Regions from separate parts of the Homo sapiens genome. Here region 1 is linked to region 2. The links come from fine-mapping of genetic effects on gene expression. A gene starts in region 2. The other region holds a variant in brackets. All regions are shown on one strand. Distances are between the middles of the regions. Region 1 overlaps KPNA1 (karyopherin subunit alpha 1). Region 2 holds the start of KPNA1 (karyopherin subunit alpha 1).

The links. PIP is the estimated chance that this variant, and not a neighbour inherited with it, causes the effect.
Region 1: its variant is fine-mapped to the expression of KPNA1 in whole blood (TOPMed, PIP above 0.99).

What each region holds. Positions count from the first base shown.
Region 1 is chr3:122,458,283-122,461,194 of GRCh38, forward strand. All of the region lies in intron 5 of KPNA1 (karyopherin subunit alpha 1), which reads right to left. Among named protein-coding and RNA genes, the nearest start is that of WDR5B-DT, 44 kb to the left of the region's middle. The variant G/A (reference allele first, on the strand shown) is at 1,474.
Region 2 is chr3:122,513,363-122,516,274 of GRCh38, forward strand. It overlaps KPNA1 (karyopherin subunit alpha 1), which reads right to left and starts at 1,577. Exons shown (of 14, transcript NM_002264.4): 1 at 1,395-1,577. It overlaps LOC107984000 (a long non-coding RNA gene), which reads left to right and starts at 1,667. Exons shown (of 2, transcript XR_924403.3): 1 at 1,667-1,766. RefSeq lists a silencer at 855-1,544.

The DNA of each region.
Region 1 (2,912 bases), 55 kb before region 2:
TGACAAGGGCTCAAGTCTATCTGAGACCTAGATGTCACTGAGCTTGAGAATGCGCTTAGCTAAAAGCCATTGTCTGCTTCCAAAATCCTAGATTCCACCCATGTTCACCTTCAGCACCTGGGTAGCAATGCTCAAAGCAGGCACTTTTATCTCCCTGGTTTGAGGTACCTTACTGACTTGGGAAGCCAGAAAGAACATAAAAAGACCCTTCAATAGGATTCACAGTTCTTTATCTATGGAATGAAGAAATTAAGTTTGTCCACAAGATTTATTAGTGAGCTGAGCCATCAAATTTCCTCTTGGCACCACATAGCATGACTCTCCTTCTGGAAGAGAAATGACAAAAGCCCTATTCCAAAGGTGCATTATTCAAGTTCTAGTAAGCAGGTAAGAGTATCAGGGATAGCTTACATCTGTCTGCTCTCCAAGAAGGCAGAGGAAGGAGTAACCTCCAAGCTTCCCAGAGCATGTCTAATTATTTGAAAGCATGGTAGATCATCAAGTCTCCTGGCTTTAAGGTCTCTCTCGATATATTTGCCCCCTTGCTTCTGAGGTGGTCAAAGGTCCCCACTAGTCACAGTGGAGGGAGAACACCATGGTGTCCTTAAATGTGCACATAAAAAAGCTAGAGATGGCCCTTAGATAACAAACAGTTGGTTATTTCTCAGAGTTAGGACAGCTAAGACTATCCTCATAAAATCATGAGGTTATCACTTCCGGAGGAATCATTTTGCAATATTTCAGCCTAATTATTAGTTTGCACAAGGGTGGAATCTGGGAGTTTACATAGAAGCAAATTAGAGATTTCTGAAGGCTTTCATCTTCAGATGTGTTAAAATACAAGTTCCAAGATTACAGAGTAATGAATTAAAAAAAGATGTAGAATGTCTTAGCCAGAAGAGGGCACTGTCGGAGAATGTACTTGTACTTTTTAAGGAGTACAAGGGAATGCAGAGATGGGGAAAGATCCATTTCTCCGACTTTTTTCATTTTAGATCTGAAAGGTTATATACCATCTATATTTAATGCATAAAAGAACTACCACCTAATAAAAACCGCCAGATCAAGGAGTAAATTCAGTATCTCTCATCTACTCTCATTCCCAGAGACAGGAAAGAAACACTTTTTTCAGCATGAACAAAATAATTTTCCCTACCTCCCTCTTCCTACAAAGCATTTCAAATGATAAACTGCAGTAAGGTTCCTCATTTGGTCCCTCTGGTTCTCGGCAGGTTGCTTAGGGGATCAGGCTCTGTTCTCTGCAGTGTTGGTTGTCTGGATTTCCTTTTATCCTGAGAAAAGTCTCTCTTCCCTTGCTCTCAGGGTGAACGTGATTATTTTTCAGGTGTCTGATGATCCTGGCCTTAGATGGGGACCAGAATTACAATCCAGGAGGCAGCTAGCAAAACAGAACCTTAATTCAAATGAGCATGGGAACTGGTAAGTGTCAAACTGGAGAAGAAAAACTGATGT[G/A]ACATTGAAGTACTCTACCTTTTCTGGATTTCTTGTTTTTCCTCTGGAAGGAACTCATCACCGCAACAAAGAGTGTAAAACAAAGAGAAAGAAGGGATAGGAGGAAAGGAGAGAAAACATCAAGGCAAATCATCAAGTTGTATGAATAATCTATAATGGTGTAGACAGTAAGGAACCTGGGGACAGGAGCTATCACTTAACAAAAATGCCCCAGTGTCTACATGGCTCCAGCCTTAGAGTAAAGAACAGCACACAAGGGGTGGGGGATATCTTTGATTAACTAGTTTTTGGCAAATATTTACTTAGAAAGATAATCCCATTTTGTGATCAACTTGGTACCTAACCAATTTTTATAGCTGCATAGTCTCAGGGCCCAAGCCTTTGAGATTAGATCCTACAGGTGAGAATTTAGGGATCACATGTATTTGTAACTAATAAAGGCACTGACTCAGTTGGTTACTCCAGGGAAGTTTACTAAAAAATCATCAGTTTCTAAAAACCCAACTTTATCCAGGGGGAAAAAAAATAGTAGTTTAGAATTTCTAGGATGAGAGTCAGCTGACTGTTGGTTTCTTTTCTTATGAAAATTATTGAATACTTGGCTGGGAGCAGTGGCTCACACCTGTAATCCCAGCACTTTGGGAGGCCAAGCAGGTGGATCACTTGAGGTCAGGAGTTTGAGACCAGCCTGGCCAACATGGCAAAACCTCATCTCTACTAAAAATAAAAGAATTAGCTGGATATGGTGGTGGCTGCCTGTAATCCCAGCTTCATGGGAGGCTGAGGCAGGAGAATCACTTGAATCTGGGAGATGGAATTTGCAGTGAGCTGAGATCTTGCCACTGCACTCCAGCATGGGCGACAGAGCAAGACTCTGTCTCAAGAAAAAGAAGAAAAAAAAAAAAAAGAAAATTCTGAATCCAGAGATTACAAAATTTCCTCTTGGAATCCCTTATATAGTACAGTACTGAAAGCCTAAATTGACACAGCAATAAGTACACAGATTCCTGACAAAGTTATCTCCTTATCGGCTTTTTGTGGGGTGGAGGAAGAATTAATTAGGAACAGATTTGGGAATTAATAAGACTCTGATCTAGCCCATGTTACACCATCCTGAGAAAGCCACCAAGTATCATCTAAAACTCCCTCAACACCAAATTTTATGTAGCCCACACATAAGTTCCTGGCTGTAATGGCTCCTCTGCTGTAAACATTTCCCTATTAGAGAAGTATTATCCACAATCATAAACATTTTAAATGATTAAAAATTATAATAATAATAAAGAGTATAACGAAGGCCTACATGTTAACAAAGCTATGAAAGCAGCTTGCAATGTAGTTGTCAGGAATATCATTATAAACAAACTTAATTCTTCATACAGATAAAAATTAGTAACAAATTTGTGTACAAAATAAAAATTTTCAAAAGGAATTAAGTT
Region 2 (2,912 bases):
TGTCTTCCAAGAATATTTCAGTAAAAATACAACAGAACTCATTCTTACTTTCCTTTGAAAAATTAAATTTTCATCTCTTTGATCTTTAAAAAGGAGGGAAAAATAACTTGTGTACTGCTTTCAAAATATTACAAATGCAAAAGCTAGTTAAGACAAAAACAATGTCGAGAATGAGCCTTGCTGGTGGCATCCGCCTGTAGTTCCAGCTAGTAGGGAGGATGCCTTGAGGCCAGGAGTTCCAGATCAGCCCGGGAAACAAAGCAAGACTCCATCTCTTAAGAAAAAAAAAAACAAAACAGGAGGGGGGAAATCACTTCATCTACTAATAGAGATTTTTAAGCAACCGTTTATTTAAGAAAAAAGGGTGAAATTCAAGTTAATATTACTTGACAGTACGTTTCAGAAAAAAAAATACTCTGCAGAGCTGGGTGTGGTTGCCCAAGACTAGTCCCAGCTACTTGGGAAGCTGAGGCAAGAGGACAGTTTGAGCTCAGGAGTTGGAGTACAGCCTGGGCAATATAGCGAGACCCCATCTCTTTAAAATACAAACAAAAACTCGGCAATCGTTTGTTCTGAGTTGAAACCTTAAAAATCAAATATTTTGAACGCTTTCATTTAAAAGTGGAACACGACCCAATCCTAAAACATTACTTCATGACGACTTCCTTGACTCCAGTCATCCTTGTTTCCTCCTCCCGTTTTGAGCTTAATCCGATACCTCGCTGCTTCCCTCGCATCGCACACGCGGCGTGCAGACCAAGTTCTGTCATTGCTATAATTACCACACCCCCGATCAGCCGCTCCAGGCCCATGTTGTTATGACATCGGTAAACTGCAGCCGGCCGTCTCCACCCCCCGCTTCCCCCACCTCCCTCCGGGCCGCCGGCTCCGACCCGGTCTGTAACTTGTGAATTCCCAAGACGGTCCCTTTTTGCCAGGGTTAGAATTTTTACACGCCACCCCTGCTCCTTCCTGCCTCTGTCACAGCGCTCTGCGCGGCCCACCCCCGCCTCCCGCCCGCCGCCCGGCCGCGGCGCAGGCTCCGCGCTCGCCTCCTCTCCGCCCGCTGCCTCGGCGCCCCGCAGTCCCCGGCGCCGCTTACAGCCCCGCCGCCGCGCCACGCCGCCCCGCCCCGCCTAGCCTCGACCGGCGTTCCCGATGGCGATCACACCAGGGCTCCCCACCCCCACCCTCTCCTCCGCCGGCCTTGTGGCCGTTAGGACAGCCGGGCCCGTGACGCACGGACGCGGCGCGAGCGTCCGGCCCAGGAACCCCGGCTCTAGGCCCTGCCGGCACCCGCCCTCGCCCCAGGGCCTCTCCTGAGTCCCTCCGGGACTGCCCGGATCTGCCGGCGGGAGGGGGAGGGGCCGGGGCCGCAAGGCCCCAGCACTCACCAGGCTCAAGGCAACCGATCCCGGTGCCACCGCTGAAGTTAGCCCCTCGCTCGCCCGCCCGCCGTGCCACTCCCGCGCACAACCTCGAAGAGCTGGCCCGCGCCTCGGCGGTGCTCACCAGGCCTCGCTCTCCGCCGCCTCGCACCGAGCAGCGAGACTCAGCTCAGCCGGCGTTCGCAGTGCGCCTGCGTGCGGGGGCCGGCCCGAGCGCCTACGCGCGCCCCTCCGGCGCTTGTCGCAGAGGCTGCCGGGAGACGTAGTCTTGTAACGCTCTCTCGCCGGACATTCCTAATGGTTAGCGCCCAGCCTGTGAAGAGTCGGGGGTCGGGGAGGGGGTCTCGCTAAGAAGGAGGTTTGCAGACCATGGCAAAGGTTGGAGAAAGTTATATGTACAAACCTGTCTTTGCTAAGCTCTTCCAGGGCGGATCGATGCTCACCTCTGTATAGCTTCTAAGTACCTAATACGCGTTGATGGAATGAATGATGGAATGATTGAAGGCTGAGGGAGTATTACAAAATTAGTAGGTCAGCGCCTCGTGTCTAAAGGGCTCACATGCAGCATGAATGCAGGAAGCTTCTGGACATTCCTTTTTTAGTTATCTCCCATCCCCTTTGCTTGATAACGTATGCGTAGTATCAAAAATAATTAAGGGCCGGGCGCGGTGGCTCACACCTGTAATCCCAGCACCTTGGGAGGCCGAGGTGGGTGGATCACTTGAGGCTAGGAGTTTTGAGACTAGCCTGGGCAACATGGCGAAACCCCGTCTCTACTAAAAACACAAAAATTAGCAGGGGGTGGTGACGGGCGCCTGAAGTCCCAGCTACTCGGGAGGCTGAGGTGGGAGAATCACCTGAGCCCGGGGTTGACGGTGAGACTGCAGTGAGCCGAGATCGCGCCACTACACTCCAGCCTGGGCAACCGGAGTGAGACCCTGCCTCAAAAATAATAATAACAATAATAATAATAATAATAATGAAACTACATGAAACACATACTCGTTTTACTCTCAACTGCTCTCAAACGAAAACTTGGAGCAAATGATTGCTAATGTTAAATTTCATGGAATTCTTTGGGGGAGCAAATGGAGTAGTGGCTTCAAAAGAAGAAAAACTGAAGCCAGCCTAGCAGGGATCACGGAATAGTAGACAGATTTAAAACACATGCCAAGAAGCAAGGTGAAAGAGATGAGGTAGATTAATACATTTATAAATGTCCCAGGGAAGAGGAGAGGAGAGAGGACCACTCTACCTGAATCCTAGGTTATGCAATGTTCATTTGTCCTGGACTTCTCTCTGCTGCATCAGCATTCTCCCGCTGATGTTGTGTTTACTAAGATCAGAGTTGAGTTTGAGCAAGGGGGCTGGGGAAAGGGAAGGTGTGTTCAACAGGAGAGACTTAAGGGCAAGTTTGCCTGACCACAGCTAGACTGAAGACAGATCACCTTATTCCAATAAGGAACTAAGACTGATTATTCAGAGCCGGTCTTCAGTCTTTGGGAAAGCTAATTTATTTCCGGT